Linked DNA regions of Homo sapiens: all the other regions are reported to be linked to region 3. The links are microRNA targets in miRTarBase. Many come from high-throughput screens and were not tested one by one. Region 3 holds a microRNA gene; each other region holds the end of a gene's coding sequence. Distances are from middle to middle.

Region 1 (4,000 bases), 70 Mb from region 3:
TCCTGTATCATGGAAAAACTGCAGGAAATAGACAAGAGAAAACCTGAAAACACTGCTGAGCTTGAGATCTTCCAAGAAGGCATAAAGGTCTTAGAAACACTGGTTACTGTTGCTGAAGAACACCATCGTAAGTGTCAGCACTAAATTCATACTCAGTCTCAACAAAAATCAGAATTTTACTGTTATTTAAATTGCAAAACAATCAGTCACATTATATCTGTATTTCACATTCATTGAAAGGTGTTATGTTAATCCCAAGTATTGATATTATTTAGTATTAATTTAGAAGAGATTGGACGAATTGTTTTCTTTAGTGGGGAAAAATGTATACAGATCAAGTGCATTTGCAGGCTTTTGTTAGAAACATTTATGTCACTGAACTTATATTATTTGTTTACTTTCTAGGCGCTCAGCTGGTGGCCTGTCTTTTGCCCATCCTCATTTCCTTCCTTTTGGATGAAAATTCTCTGGGATCAGCAACTTCCATAATGAGAAATTTACATGACTTTGCTCTACAAAATCTCATGCAAATTGGACCTCAGTATTCATCTGTTTTTAAAAGTTTAGTGGCTTCTTCTCCAGCCCTAAAAGCCCGCCTTGAGGCTGCTATAAAGGGCAATCAGGAAAGTGTCAAAGTCAAGATACCAACATCTAAATATACTAAGAGTCCTGGAAAAAACTCAAGCATCCAATTAAAGACCAGTTTCCTCTGATTTTTTTTTTGGAATAGTAAGCACCTTAATATAATAAATACTTGATCATTGCCTTTGGTGACAAAAGGGACATTGTAGACACAAGTGCCCTTAGAGGTCTAGTTGATTGTTTTACCTTAAATAGCTGTGACTCTTCAAAGTAACAGCATACTTAACATTTTTGTGTGTGTGCGTGGGGTTTGTGTTTTGTTTTGTTTTGTTTTTCTATTTAAAAAGACAATGGAGCTAACTTGCCAGGAATTTTAAGAAAGTGCTAAAGAACTAAACTTACTAAACAATCCACTGCTTTAAAAATGAAATGAATTTCTTCTAACAGTCCATACATATGTGGTATACTTAATACTGTGACAGATATAAATATGACTCTAGTGTAAATTATCTGCACTAATATTGTATCCCAATTGCTGATTTAAAATTCTGCTTTGGCCCGGCACAGTGGCTCATCCCTGTAATTCCAGCACTTTGGAAGGCCAAGGCGGGCGGATCACGAAGTCGGGAGTTTGAGACCAGCCTGACCAACATGGTGAAACCCCGTCTCTACTAAAAATACAAAAATTAGCCGGGTGTGGTGGCACACACCTGTAATCCCAGCTACTCAGGAGGCCGAGGCAGGAAAATCGCTTGAACCTGGCAGGCAGAGGTTGCAGTGAGCCAAGATTGTGCCACTGCACTCCAGCCTGGGCGACAGAGTGAGACTCCATCTAAAAAAAAAAAAAAAAAATTCTGCCTTATTCAGTAATTGTATTAAACTTTCTCTGATTTCTCCAAGAAGATAAAATGATTGGAGAGCTATTTAGGAAACCTGGTCTAGGATTATCCAGTATACAATAGTACAAATTACTTACAGCCTTACAGTGCAACATAAGATTTGGTGTCTATATCATGGTTTTCCACCATCTTTTGGTTTAGTTTATATTGGGTTCAGAAATTGAGTCTTACTCATTTTAAATAGAATAAGCCATTTCCACTATTTTTCAAATGGATTTTTCTGTTTACCTCTGTTCTTACCAATTTTGTTCATTTTCATTTGTGGCAAACATTTGTATCAATGAGTTTTAACCTAGGTTCATATCTACATTGTATTTAGATCAACTATGGGTTTATATAAATGCCAAATTTAGTACAACAAATTTAGGTCATCAGGTGAATACAAGTATTTTTTTTAACAGGAAACATTTTATTATAGAAAAAAGATTAATGATAAAGTCATATTGGTTGAAAAATATTTTTTAACTGTGTTCATGATTGTTGATTCTCCTTCTACTTCAGTGTTATACTGTGTGAATCAAGCACTGTGTCAAAACAGAGCATTTCCCTCTTAAAAATTACAAACCGAAGTGATAGAAGCATGTCAGAATTGAGAAGACATTTTGAAGCAAGAACAATGTGATGTACCTATTTTATTATGTTTGTATATAAATACTATTGTAAATTGTTCAGAGTGAAAACATTTGACAAACTCTAACACTACAATCATTTTTTCTAAATTACATAAATAAAGCTAATTTTCATTATCATTCTTGTATTTTTAAATTATTTTACCAACAAAAGATGGCAGGTTGGTTTCTCTCACATGGATTCCAGAAAATCAGCCTTTTTTCTCAGAAGAGCCCTTTCTTTGGAGCATTATTTGTGATGGTTTAGATTCTCTGTCTCTTCCTAAGTGTCTCTAGGCATTGAGTGTATATTTATTGTTCCCTTTACCTAAAATGTCCTTTTCTCTCCTGTCTTCTGTCTGGTGATTGCCCACTCCTTTTAGGCCTGGCTTAAATATCACCTTTCCTTGGTAACTCTCCTTAACACTTCTTAACTTCCTCTTACACCAATTTAACTGCTTCCTCATCTGTGTTTCCATAGTGCTTAATACATTCTTGTATGCATAAAAAATCACATTGCAATTTGTGGTTTGTTTGTTTGTTTAAGCCAAGGTCTTGTTCTGTTGCCCAGGCTGGAATGCAATGGTGTGAACACAGCTCAGTGCAGCCTTGACCTACTATGCTCAAGTGATCCTCCTGCCTCAGCCCCCCAAGTAGCAGGAACTACAGATGTGTGTCTCCAAGCCTAATTTAAAAATTTTTTTTGTAGATATGAGGTCTCACTCATATGCTGCCCAGTCTAGTCTCAAACTCCTGAGCTCAAGCTGTCCTCCCACCTTGGCCTCCCAAAGTGCTAGGATTATAGGTGTGAGCCACCACACCCAGCTCACATTGCATTTTAATATTATCTTGTCTCCCTCTTAGACTGTACCACTTCATAGGGAGAAATTATGTCTTCTGTAACTTGGCTCACTTAATAGCTATTGAATTGCACTGGTACAGGATGGATGAGGACTCATAACTTCTTTGCCAAGGCAAATGCTGAACTAGGTTGTTCTCAGGATGTAACTAATTAATTTGACTTAGGGATTTTAAAAAAGTGTTTTGTCTGTTTTAGCTGTTTCATTTAGTTTGCTCTTACACATTAAGATTTCTACTCAGTACTCTAGTATCCTGAATTATTTGGATTAAAGGTGCTTATATGAACGTCAGTAATTAGGAAAAAAACCTTTTATGTCCAGTGTAATGGAATTAGGAAATTTGAGCTACTCTTAAATGTATCTCCTTAAATCGCCTTATTTAATACAACCCTGAACTATTAAATGTATCTTTACTGATAATGAAATTAAGGCTTAACAGCTGGGGTTTGAACTCATCTTTCTGATCCCAAGCATTCATGCTGGAGACAGGAAAACTGGCAATCCCGATTCCATCAAGGTATAGCTTTTCTCCTCTTTCAGCGCTCCGGGCTCCCTCAGGAGCCTTCCTCACTCTTTGTTGAAGATATTTTCAATTACATTTCTCCAAATTACAACTAAAAAGTCTTTCGCTAATAGAATAGGGGAAAAAGTTTTTTTTTAATTATTTTCTACAGCAGTTTCTTTTTTTTTTTTTTTTTTTTTTGAGATGGAGTTTCGCTCTTGTTGCCCAGGCTGGAGTGCAATGGCCTCTGCTTCCCAGGTTCAAGTGATTCTACTGCCTCAGCCTTCCCAAGTAGCCGGGATTATAGGCATGTGCCACCACATCTGGCTAATTTTGTATTTTTAGGGGAGACGGGGTTTGTCCATGTTGGTCAGACTGGTCTTGAACTCCTGACCTCAGGTGATCCGCCCGCCTCGGCCTCCCAAAGTGCTGGGATTACAGGCATGAGCCACTGTACCTGGCCTGCCCTCTACAGTTTCTATGGGAATAGATTATATGCTTAGATATTAATGAGTCTAGTTGTAATAAAGCAGTTGCATATTAATTAGC
Region 2 (4,000 bases), not on the chromosome of region 3:
ACGGCACGCGCGGCGCCGCCGCCGAGGGCGCTAAGAGCGCGGAGCCGCCTCCCGAGCAGCCGCCGCCGCCGCCGCCGCCCGCGCCCCCCAAGAAGCTGCTGTCGCCTGAGGAACCGGCGGTGAGCGAGCTAGAGTCGGTCAAGGAGAATAACTGTGCTTCCAACTGCCACCTGGACGGGGAGGCGGCCAAAAAGCTGATGGGCGAGGAGGCCCTGGCGGGGGGCGACAAGTCAGACCCGAACCTTAATAACCCCGCGGACGAGGACCATGCCTATGCTCTGCGGATGCTGCCCAAGACCGGCTGCGTGATCCAGCCTGTGCCAAAACCCGCGGAGAAGGCTGCCATGGCACCGTGCATCATCTCCTCGCCCATGCTCAGCGCCGGGCCTGAGGACCTGGAGCCGCCGCTCAAAAGGAGGTGCCTCCGAATTAGAAATCAGAATAAGTAAAAGGTTTGTATGTCCGCCGGGCGCTCCTCCACACCAGCCAGTGCACCTCTCCTTACTTCTGACAAGGCAGAGGGGAGAGTTGTAATTATAGTCATGATTTTACCGTGTGTGTTTTATATTGCACACGGTGTGGTCACGCTATCAACATTCTGAGCCAGCAGCTCTGATGCTGAGTTGTTCAGTAGCATCATTCCCATTTTACAGCCGAGGAAACTGAGCCACAGCATGTGAGTGCCAAGCCCCGGGTCACTTACTTGAGGGGAGAGCTCAGTCTCCAACCTGTCATGAAATATTGTCTCTCCAATTACACTTTATTATCATGCTCATCTCCGTAAATCACCCTATTGGAGAAGAGGAGGATGGGGGGAGGGAGAAGAGATTAACTTGGGACACCTAAATGTGTGATCATGAGGTTGCAGGGCAGTGGTGAAATGTCCAGTGAACCCATGAGCTGGGCCACCTACTAAATAGAGCTGGTTGCCTCATTGGCAGAATGTCACCAAATTTTCTTGATAAGGACGGGATTCCATTTGTAAAGTGAGAATGAAACCTAACTCTTACATGCATATGTCAACTGAACCCAGGCCACTGAGTCCTATTTGCCTGGCAGGGTGTCTTTCCTGTTCATGGGGTCTCCTTCCTGCAGTTTGGCACCAAGCAGCATCCCCCAGGGTAGGCCTCAAGCGTCACTGACCAGCTTTGCTCTCTCCCCCTTTTGGGGCCCAGCGGCTTAGCTGATGAGTTGCTCACCTTTGCAGGTAATGGGAGGCTTCGATAGGGAAGAGGGTGGCATTGCTAAAGTGAGTGACACTGCACATCTCTGACCTCATAGACAGACTCCTGCCTAATGCCAAGTGAGCCGCCAAGAGTGAGTTAAATTTTTCAATATTGGGAAGGGGAACTAACATGTGTGCCTGTCATAGGCAGAGGTGGCCTCATTTGCTCCTCCTGCCAATTCTGGTGGAATAGGCATCATCTGTATCTCACCAAGGAGGCAGATGAAGCTTAGATACTGTGCCCGAAGCAGAGCTGGTACGTGGGGAAGCCGTATTCAACTCAGGCCTGTTGGACACAGCCCAAGCTCTCCCGTCTATCCAAGCGGGCATCAAACAGGCCAAAATTCAGTTGAGTTTATCAACTTCTTATGGAGAGGAAGAGGAGAGATGAGCATTTATTGAGCACCTAACTTGTACACTGCTCCTTCCAGGGACTAGGGAGATACAAAGGTAAATGATGGCGTGCCCCCATCTGGTGGGAGTGCAAACTCCAGGAGGAAGGAAGCGGGGGCCAGGAGAGTGGATCTCGTAAGATGAATAATTGCTCACATTTGTATGCAGGCTGTCTTCTAAGTGTTTTTCGGTAGTATTTATTTGGATCTGGGTCCATAGGACAATTATCGTCTTCATTTTATTGATGAGGAAACCAAGACAGAGACATTAAAGTAACTTGCCCAAGATTTTACCAAATTAGCAGAGTTGAGATGCAAATCCAGGCTGTCTGACTCCAGAGCTGCATTTTTTAAAAAACCACTGTAGGAGAATAGGCTAATTAGTTTCTTTATTACCCTACATACTAAAATTGTTTTACCCACCTCAGTGGGTAAAACAACCCTCAGTTGTCATAGGGGAAAGTTTCTTAAAAAACAAACAAAAACTGAGTCTACCTCCTAACTTCTCTAAGTGTTCAGACAGTTGAATTCTTGTTTCTGCAGCACCAACAAGCCTAAATTACCAACCCATTACTCCACAGTGGGAAATACAAACGTGGAGCACAGCACTTGCTGTGGTGTGTCCAGTCCCTGGTCTCTAAGTTGGGCCCCTAGCATAGCCAGGAGATTGCTTGGGAAGCACAGACCAGAGCAAGGAGACTTGTCAGTTGAGGAAGAAAGGTTTCTCAGCCACCATCGTTCGAGGTTTCCTTTTCCTCTGATGGCTTTGCCAGTAGAGGAAGAATACTAAAAATGAGTTCACCATTCCTTCTTGATTTTACATCTACAAGTTCTGCTGCCTGAAGACAGATGGCCTCAGCCTTCTCACAGTCACCTCAATTGAAAATGCCCCTGATTTCTTCACGAGAGTAATTTAATCTGGTTGACAAAGCTGTGAGTAATGGGAAGATGTGTGACAAAAAAAGTGACGGCCTTCAGAAAGTCAGAAAGCATTGGGAATTGTCACTTTAAACACATTCTAATATCACTCATTCAGGTGAGGCTGAAAAGAAGAAGAATGGGAGGGTGAGAGATTTTACTATTATACCATCATTGGAGTGAGAAGTGACCAGGTCAAGAATAGTGACACTAACATATGAGTAGCTTGGGACCAAAATAACATAAAAACATAAAATACACGATGGCTATTTGGATGATATATGTTTCTGAATAAAGAATCAGTCTTGTATGTGGACCAGAATCATTAAAAATATCAACCTGGCTCCAGCCAATTTCAGAAGATGTGGTGATGAAATTGCCCACTACCTCTTGAGATTGAAGAGTTCTTTCAATGATGGGTCCCCCAAGAAATTACAGCTTTTCTTTAAAATCAGAAATACAGAAATACTCAGGCTTTGTCAGCTACGAAAGGGTGACAAGGCAAGTGATTTAAGATGGGGGAAAAACCACCTCTCCTCCACTAAATCACATTTCCTCTTGCCCTCAGAAGTTCCGTGTCACCTCACAGCACAGTCTCAACCTGCCACAATTTACTCACATTCTCTGGCCCTTCCTGGTTTGTTTTATTTATTTATTTAGTTATTTATTATTTTTTGAGACAGAGTCTCAATCTGTCACCCAGGCTGGAGCGCAGTGGCGCGACCTTGGCTCACTGCAACCTCGGCTGCCTGGGTTCAAGTGATTCTCCTGCCTCAGCCTCCTGAGTAGCTGGGGTTATAGCCACGCGCCACGATGCCCAGCTAATCTTTGTATTTTTAGTAGAGACAGGGTTTTGCCATGTTGGCCAGGCTGGTCTCGAACTCCTGACCTCAGGTGATCCACCCACCTCGGCCTCCCAAAGTGCTGGGATTACAGGTGTGAGCCAACGTGCCCAGGCCCCTTCCTGTTTTTTTGTGCACATGTGGTGCTGTTTTTCTTCTATGCCTTCAGAAACCCAGACCGTTCATATGGTTGGGGAAATTGGAAGTGTATCCACTAAATAAAGGACCGTATGGCTTTTGTGCCCTGATGCTGAACACTGGTGACAAGTTAAAAGCCAAAGTGGAAAGTGTTACAAACCAAAAGCAAAACTCAGGCTGAGATGTGGTGGGTGAGGTGCAGGTGAATGATTTCTCCGTGTGCTTGTTGGTGATTCATTATATATTATTTCTCATATATATTCATTATATATTATATAGGATAATCTGTCAATAACTTCAGTCAGCTCTTCATTCTTCTCACTATGTCTGCCTTTTTCATACTGTAGTACTATTTTATTATTTTTATTTTATTTTATTTATTATTTTTTTGAGACAGTCTTGGTCTGTTGCCCAGGCTGGAGTGCAGTGGCACAATCTGGGCTCACTGCAACCTCTGCCTCCGGGGTTGAAGCAATTCTCCTGCC
Region 3 (4,150 bases):
ACCCTAGCATGTCCTTTAGGATGAAGTGAATCACGTTCTGAGGTATGATAGGGTCTGGGGAGAGCGCAAACGGCTGGTAGCTCTTCATCTCTTCAAGCTCCAAACCAAACGCTGCTTTCCACACATCTTCGGTGCGGTGCCCGTTCACGCTTTCCTCCACAATGGTCCCACGCAGCTCCAGTTTTGTGAACCACTCGGCTCCGTGTAACTGGTCAAACAGTTCCGGAATCATCTGTATGTAGTCCTGTCTGTTGGTCAGCATGTCCTGCAGGTCCCAGTATTCCTCCTGTAGCCTGGCTCTTTCTTGCATCCTGGCACCCACAGGTTCCCAAGGCGCGGTGGAGGGACACTCGTAAAAGGTCTCGCTGTGATCACTGTCTCCAGCCTGCTGAAGCTCAGAGGGCTCTGATTCAGAAAGATCATCGGATCCGTCTGAGCTTGGCTGGTCGGAAGTCTCATCATCTGCTTCCTTCGGGTTAAACACGTCGGCCAGGTCTGAGTATGGGTGTGGCAGTCCGGGTAGCAGGCTCATGCCGTGCCTCTCTAGGGCAATGCATGGCGGGGGCGGGCGGAAGCAGTTCTTCAGGCAGTAGGGAGAGTGGAAGGTGCAGCGGCCTTTGATCCAGTCGACTTCGGGGGCGTGGACTCGGAGCCAGCGGATGCCTAGGACCACAGAGAAGTTCGGTGAAGGTACGATGTCAAATTCGATGGACTCCTGGTGGTTCTGGTGGATACACACCAGGGGCTCCGTGTAGAGCCAGACAGGCTCGTTGCCAATCAGCGAGCCGTCCACGGATTGGACCGGCTGTGGGTACGGCTTCTCGTAGAGCTCGACGTAGTGCTCTTGGGCGAACTTCTCATCCATGAAGTTGCCGTCAGCTCCCGAATCCACCAGGGCCTGGACCGCGACGCTGTGGTAGGGGTTCACTCTCACCATGAGCAGCAGGAAGAGGTGGGCGCGATTGATGTCCGGATGGACTTCGCTGGGCAACCAGCTGCTGACCATCCACCTCTCTGGAGCAGGTGAGTCGATCCAGGTCAGGTTCCGGGGGCGGGCCTCGGGGGGCAGCCTGAGCATAGCTCTTCTCTCTGCCAGCTTCTCTTCTATTTGCAGGATGAGCACAATCAGACTGTCTAGGGAATCCGGCTGAGGGACCCGGAATAGATAGTGCCTGATCTCCTCGTTGAGCCCCTGGCACAAGTGGGCCTGCAGGACTTCATCTGGCCAGCCCAAGATGGGTACCAGGCTCTGGAACTCATCGATGTACTCAGTGGCAGAGCGGCCGCCCTGCCTGATGGTGAACATGGCCTCTTCTGCCACACGCAGTGCCTGGCGGTACTCAAACACTTCGGACATGGCCTCCAGGAAGGCTGGGAAGTCTCCGATCAGGGGGCTGTTTTCCTGCAGTAGAGCTTTGGCCCATTCTAATGCCAAGCCGGACAGGTGATTGATGACATAGCCAACTCTCAGACGGTCGTTATAGAACATTCTTGGGTAGCTCTGTAAGGTCAGTTGGCAGAGTACGATGAACTCGTGGAATTCTCTGCGATCGCCAGAGAAGTGCTTTGGGGCGGGCAGTTGGCCTGCATTGATCCCTTTGATCAAGATCTCTTCTGCTACTCTCTGTTGCTCTTTGAGGTCTTGCATTCGGAAGTACAGCGAGATGATGGACCTCACCATGGCCATAAGTTCTGCGGTTGAGTGCTCGGTCTGGTTTTGCTCTTGAGGAGTCTCCTCCCTTCCCGATTCCTTCAGGTCAGTGTGAGCCTCTTGTTCTTCTCGGGCTCCCGATGGGTTGACTGATGCTTCTTTCATCCTATCAGATGCTCCACTGAGTGGATCCCCCCTTGCCTGGTGTGAACCGTTGCATGACTCCTCCAGGTCTTGGAGTAGGTCATTGGGTGGATCCTCTATTTCCTTACGTGGGCCACTGGATGGCTCCTCCATGTCTTGGAGTAGATCAGTGGGCAGCTCTTCCATTTCCTGGAGTGGGCCACTGGGGGGCTCCTTCTTTTCCTGGGCTGGGCCGCTGGCTGGCCCTGCCTCTCCCCGCACTCCACTGCCCGACGTCGCCTCGGTGGTGTTGGATGAGCCCTCGGAGGACTCCATTTGTTTTGATGATGGATTCTTATGCTCCATCATCGTCTCAAATGAGTCTTCAGAGGGTTCTATCATTTCGTCGGATGGAAAGGAGTGTATTCTGAAGATTGGTAAGGTTGTGATGGCGTCCAGTCAGTAGCTGGGACCGTGGAGATCAGAACCTGGTGGTGGAAGGGGAGTGTGGGGAGTAAAGGCAGTAGTTTAGGATCTTGTGAAGTGGCAGTATCAGGGTCTCAAGGACAAATCAGATGCCCAACTAATCAGAGCAGAGAGAAATGGGGGAAAGCCTTCTTGTATCGAGCCAGCCTCTTTGGCTGGTCACTTGGGGTGCCCCCAGGGAGGGAAGATCTGTCAACCCCTGACCTGCCTCCCAGGCTTATTCAGTCTGCCTGTCCTGTCCTTTTCCTCCATAGATGTGAGAAATTCACAGCCCATAAATTCTGTGGCTGGGAGCAGCCACCGTGGCAGGCGGGTACCTGGCAGGGTGCACAGGCTGCTCCATTCCCCCCTGGCACATGCACCTGGTCAATCCTCTTTTCCTGCTTTGGTCACCTGAGAATCACAGAGGTCACATCTCAGCACCATCCAAAGCCACCCCTGGCAGGCTCAGGGCTCTGGAGCAAGCCCAGCCACCTTGGTTGTGGAGCGGGAATCTCTAGCAAAGATGCCTACTGTTTCACCAGTGCAGTGGAAGAGGAGAAAATGGGCACTTGGCCACTGTCCCGTCAGTTGGGTCAGCAGCCCAAAATAGTTCTTATTTCCTTCCCCATGTTCAAAATAGAAATTTCAGGGGGTGTGTACAGGTCTGGGTTTTTTTTTTTTTTTTCCATAAATTTTATAACATACCTACTATGTGCTGGATAACTGCATATTTGTTACTTGATTCTAACTCAGACTTTTGGCCAATTTCTCTTTCTCGATTTGGTCTCCTTCCAATGCTATGTTCTCCCGACCTCTGAGCTGTTGAGGAGATCTTCAAATAATCTCCTTCTCTTCCTACAATCTCCACTCTCCCAGGACTGCCCTCTTTGTGAGGCTTCTGGAACTTCACACATCTGGCCTCAATTTCACCAGTGCAAGCATATCTGCACGCCTCTCCAATCTTATCCTCCCAGGTCCCCTTCTTAACGCCAGTGGGTCTGGTCTCCTCTTTCTAGCAAATATCTTTTTCTCTCTGTTGCTGGTTGAGCCCTCCCAACAGACATGTATCTGGCAGAGTTGGGACATTGAGTGTGGGGGTTGGGGGGAACATGTGACATCTTTGGAATCTGACGGTCCCAGAGTGGATTTTTGGAAATCTAGTGTTGGGTGGTTTTAGTGGGCTGAGACAGAATTGAAAGGGAATGTCTTGGTTGGGGTTATTTGCACATTTCTTCTCTGCTGGGGCAGAGCAAATTAAGCTTTGATTATCTGATAGATTAACTGTAAAGCTACTGCTCTTTATAAATTTAACACCTTTTGTTACTTCTGAGTTTTCTTCTAAGCCACTGGACCCATCCGTAAAAAAAAAAAAAAAAACTGCGTTCCCCCTTACGTGAAACTCATTGGCTAAAATCCAAGCTTTCCAACAGGATACAAAATTCAGATCTGCTGTTTCTCAAAATTAAGTACACCCTTGTTAGCATGACACTTAAATTTGATCATGCAGTCTCTCTGATTAAAGCCTTCCACTGTTTATTTACTGTCTGCAATATTAAATCCAAACCTTCTAGCGTAAACATATCTGACATGTAAACTCACCAAAACTATTCTCTGGTTAAAATGTAAGGGCCTTAATATAATATAAAATTCTTATTTTGTCATTCCTCAAGGTAGAGATCACATTTTTTTAAAGCACAGTATACAAATCAGCATGGTATAGGAATTATAAGAATCATCATCATCATCATCATGATGTACATAGCACATTGCAGAAATTAACTCATTTCCTCTCCATAAAAGTCCTCTGAGATATGCATTATTACTGTAAAATTCCAAACCTCTAATATAAAATTCTAATTGAAATACAAATAAATAATTCTAATTGAAATACAAAAACTAAGTAATTCA
Region 4 (4,000 bases), not on the chromosome of region 3:
ATAGTATCAGCAACATTCTAGATATTTTACACATAATGAAAATTATCTATGAAGCATAATTATGCTTGAGAAATACAAGGCAGCATTCTCCAAATCATTTCAGTATTTCAACATCCAAGGTAAAATAATTACAGGACACTTCGTTAAACTTGTTTTAAAAAAGGTTTATTTGTTACAAAAAGTTAAATACTAAAGCTAAAAACATATAAATTCAGGTCAGGCTATATTAAAATACACACATACCCTTCTTTGCAAAATTATTAAAGGTTGAATTAAACAGATGCTTTAAATAAAATAAAGTACTCTTTGAGGACATTTTTGTCAGATTAACTATAACAGTGTAGTGTAGTTTTTAAAATTGCAGTTGAAAAGTTTAGCTGTCTTGGAAGTCAAATTTATCCAATTGTTCAGACTTCTGTTACTACTTAATATGAAGCCACCATGCTGGCTTGGACAGAATTAATTTCATTCATGTTATGGAGAATTCTATATTACAAATCTGGTCCCCTATAATATGAACAGTGAGCAGTCAGAAATATACAAAGGGTTAAATAGGGTAAAGACTTTGGCCAAGAAAGGAAAGGCCTTAGTTCTACCATAGAGTATCTTCTCTAATTAAAATGACTGGGAAATATATGGAAGCAGAAACCAGCACAAAGCACTACCCATCTAGAAATAATCTTTCAGTTAAAAAACAACTCTCAAAACCAGCACTCATTTCTCTAAGATAGGTTATAAGTATTTTACGATTTCTTGTTATATTAAATTGAGTTAAAGGTACTGACAAGTCAATATGCAAATGGGTTTAAACACTAATTTGATTTCTCTTCTGACTAGCTCTGGAGAGCTGTGACATCTGGATGTTGGTGTCACTCACACAGGTAGGTGGTAGAGAACTTTCATAACAAAACTACACACTCCACACCAACTGGGCACCAGCTTCCAAACCCAACTCCACTTCAGGTCAAACAACCTTAAGGAACTACCTATAGTCTAGTTAAACATTAAATAGTATTTTCAAGAAAATACCTTTTTTTGCTTTGCAACTTAATATTTTTCAATTTCCTAGATTAAAAGTTACTGATTTTGAACTTTAAATGCTGTAATTCATATAGGGGTGCGAATATGCTCATGAAAAACAAAAGGCTATTATTCCATTTTAGAAGTCTTAAATGTGAATGAATTTCTAGAAATCTACCACAGTATCTGTTTTTTACAATGCTAATCTTTGTCAAATGGGATTTGCCAGTGGTTGATTAACTCAAGTGATTAAAATACAAAAGACATAAAATCGATTCCAGTAATCATCAATGATACAGCCTAATTAAAATCAGCCCAATTAAAATATTTCCTGGAATATATCTATAGGGAATTTTTAGTGTTTCACTTTGGTTTTTTTTTTTTTTTTGAGATGGAGTTTCGCTCTTGTCACCCAGGCTGGAGTGCAGTGGTGCGATCTCGGCTCACTGCAACTTCCACCTCCCAGGTTCAAGCGATTTTCCTGCCTCAGCTTCCTGAGTAGCTGGGATTACAGGTGTGCGCCACCACATCTGGCTAATTTTGTATTTTTAGTAGAGACGGGGTTTCACTGTTTTGGCCAGGCTGGTTTCGAACTCATGACCTCAAGTTATCCACTTGCCTCAGCCTCCCAAAATGCTGGGATTACAGGCCTGAGCCACCATGCCTGACCTAATGTTTTACTTTGGCAGTGTTGGTATACATACAAGGGCTAACGGTATGGGGTCCCAATATTATACTATAAAACCATTTAATCAAATTTTTGAAAAGTCGGAAAAACTGTGTGTATTCTAAAGTCACTGGAAATTAAAAGAAAAATATATTCCAGTAGTGACTTACAGATGAAAATGATGCTGACAATAGACAGTAATCTGTTTTTCCATGTCTAGGTTTGTGAGTTTCTGATATAATTATTTCTCTATACATGTGATATGAAAGAAAGAAACTATCAGTCTGTCCTCTATCCCAGTCCATTTTCCCTCTATGTAACAAGTCTTTGACTTACATCCTTTCTTTGAACTTACTGTGTAATATTAGAGCACAAGATTCATGCTACTCTTTATCAAATAATCTTGCAGTCCTTGAAAAGAATTCAAAGAATTTAAGCCACTGACGTCCTAATCTTGGTAAATAACACTAAAAACAAATTCTTGAGCCAACTTCGGTAGCAAATTCTCTACAGAGCATCTTTCTCTGTGAACATCTTTATACATGTGTATTAAAGTTAGGCTGGTTAGTCACTCTTACCAACCTCCTGGTCTTACAGAATGATCAAGAAAGTATTTGTTCATCTATGATAGAGCAAGAACTGTGACTGTTTTAAAGCTAAGACAACACAACACATTTCTCCCTTGCCAGCCAAGGTGGCAGTGGAGGCCCTGGGTGGTCCAGACCTCCCCAAAGGCGGGAATCTTCACTATGTTCTCTTCCCTCCGGTGAGCCTCCTTCTCTTCCCTTTATATCAGTGCCTTTTTCTGCTTTCAGAGAGAAAGGTGTTTGAGCAAGAAAACATAGGATATTTCCCACCACGAAACAGACATAATTTTGAGGGCTCAGCACAAAATGAAATCATGGGGCCCTTCTTCAAACATTATTAAGAATTTCCGCTATAGCAGAGCCTTGAACCAAGTGTGGGGTCCTTCTAAGTGTGGGCCCTGTGCTGCTACACAAGTTACACGCTAAGAAAGCCAGCCCTGCCTAGGTTCCCCGCCTACTCAGATTGCCAAAAGGAGATAAAGTGGCTCAATTGGGTTGTCCAGATGAAAAGCAGGTATTTTTTTTATGATGATTCAAACACTGTCATCAATTGAGAACTAAGTGGCATTTCACTTTCCAAATGGCCGGCAAATTTCTATTCCTAAAATCTCATGTTGGACTGATTGGTTTTCCCCTAGATTTCTCATTATACAAATGGTTATGCTGGGTCTTTAAATGCCCCTTATTTTAATAGAGCAATTAATCAGACATGATTAAATTTCTGTATTAATCCTACGTAATTTTTTTTTTTTAATCTAAGCATTTCTTAACTGAGAGGGGTCTAAATATCACTAAAGCAACAGGACATCTTTAAGGGAAAACAGCTGCAAAACAGCTTTGCATTCTAGAGTGAAAGCCTTAGTTTTAGCCTATGGTATATTTTGTTCCCTTTTAAGACCACAGTGGTAGTTTTTTTCCAAAGAGAACTAATAAACATATTAAGCTATATGGTAATTTTTCTAACACCCACATTGGTTTCGGTCAGAAGAATTTTACTGGAACCTGGAGGTATCCCATTCTTCATAATAATAAAAAAGAAATGTAGTGTATAAAAGCTCCAGGTTACATTACTAAGCAACGACATTTCCGGGAGTGAATATACTTCCTGTATTCCGCAAGCTGCTTCAAGTACATATTCGACGGCCATCTGTGCTTTTCAACAAAACTGCGTTCTTCCACTGAAGTTTTAAGAAAAAGACTGTTAACCGAATATGTTTTATTATGGATCAATTAAGATATCAGCTATTGATTTCCTCTTTAATAGATGAGATCCAGCTCTGTGATACATCTCCTACCATTCCCACAAGTTTTCCCAAATAATTTACTACCATTTTGGTTAAATTAGTATCAGGATTTAAGTTATTATGTGACTTACAATTATATATATCTTGTCCACTACTTCGAGTAGTATTTCATTATTTTCCTTTTCTTTTTTTTTTTTTTTTGAGATGGAGTCTCATTCTGTCGCCCAGGCTGGAGTGCAGTGGCGTGATCTCAGCTCACTGCAACCTCTGCCTCCCCAGTTCAAGCAATTCTCCTGCCTCAGCCTCCCGAGTAGTTGGGACTACAGGCGTGTGACACCACGCCCAGCTAATTTTTTGTATTTTTAGTAGAGACGGGGTTTTACCTTGTTGGCCAGGATGGTCTCGATCTCCTGACCTCGTGATCTGCCTGCCTTGGACTCCCAAAGTGCTAGGATTACAGGCATGAGCCACCACGCCTGGCT

The links. Region 3 holds the annotated microRNA hsa-miR-432-5p (UCUUGGAGUAGGUCAUUGGGUGG, at 1,884-1,906, shown strand). A microRNA usually pairs through its seed, bases 2 to 8, with sites in the 3' UTR of a target mRNA and lowers its output. Matches are read on the target gene's strand: a 7mer-m8 pairs with bases 2 to 8, a 7mer-A1 pairs with bases 2 to 7 and ends in A, and an 8mer does both.
Region 1: miRTarBase lists HEATR5A as a target of hsa-miR-432-5p. Seed matches in the 3' UTR shown: 8mer at 1,476-1,483.
Region 2: miRTarBase lists SOBP as a target of hsa-miR-432-5p. The part of its 3' UTR that is shown has no 7-base or 8-base seed match.
Region 4: the mRNA of RHOBTB3 is a reported target of hsa-miR-432-5p. Seed matches in the 3' UTR shown: 7mer-A1 at 381-387.

What each region holds. Positions count from the first base shown.
Region 1 is chr14:31,290,018-31,294,017 of GRCh38, reverse strand. HEATR5A (HEAT repeat containing 5A) reads left to right here. Exons shown (of 36, transcript NM_015473.4): 35 at 1-127; 36 at 406-2,230. The coding sequence ends at 713. Among named protein-coding and RNA genes, the nearest start is that of HECTD1, 84 kb to the right of the region's middle.
Region 2 is chr6:107,635,018-107,639,017 of GRCh38, forward strand. It overlaps SOBP (sine oculis binding protein homolog), which reads left to right. Exons shown (of 7, transcript NM_018013.4): 6 at 1-452. The coding sequence ends at 449. Among named protein-coding and RNA genes, the nearest start is that of SOBP, 150 kb to the left of the region's middle.
Region 3 is chr14:100,882,613-100,886,762 of GRCh38, forward strand. MIR432 (microRNA 432) reads left to right here and starts at 1,871; the gene lies at 1,871-1,964. It overlaps RTL1 (retrotransposon Gag like 1), which reads right to left. Exons shown (of 4, transcript NM_001134888.3): 4 at 1-2,262. The coding sequence starts at 2,176. MIR127 (microRNA 127) reads left to right here and starts at 367; the gene lies at 367-463. MIR136 (microRNA 136) reads left to right here and starts at 2,090; the gene lies at 2,090-2,171. RefSeq lists a silencer at 3,080-3,374.
Region 4 is chr5:95,792,511-95,796,510 of GRCh38, reverse strand. RHOBTB3 (Rho related BTB domain containing 3) reads right to left here. Exons shown (of 12, transcript NM_014899.4): 12 at 150-3,452. The coding sequence ends at 3,337. Among named protein-coding and RNA genes, the nearest start is that of GLRX, 28 kb to the left of the region's middle.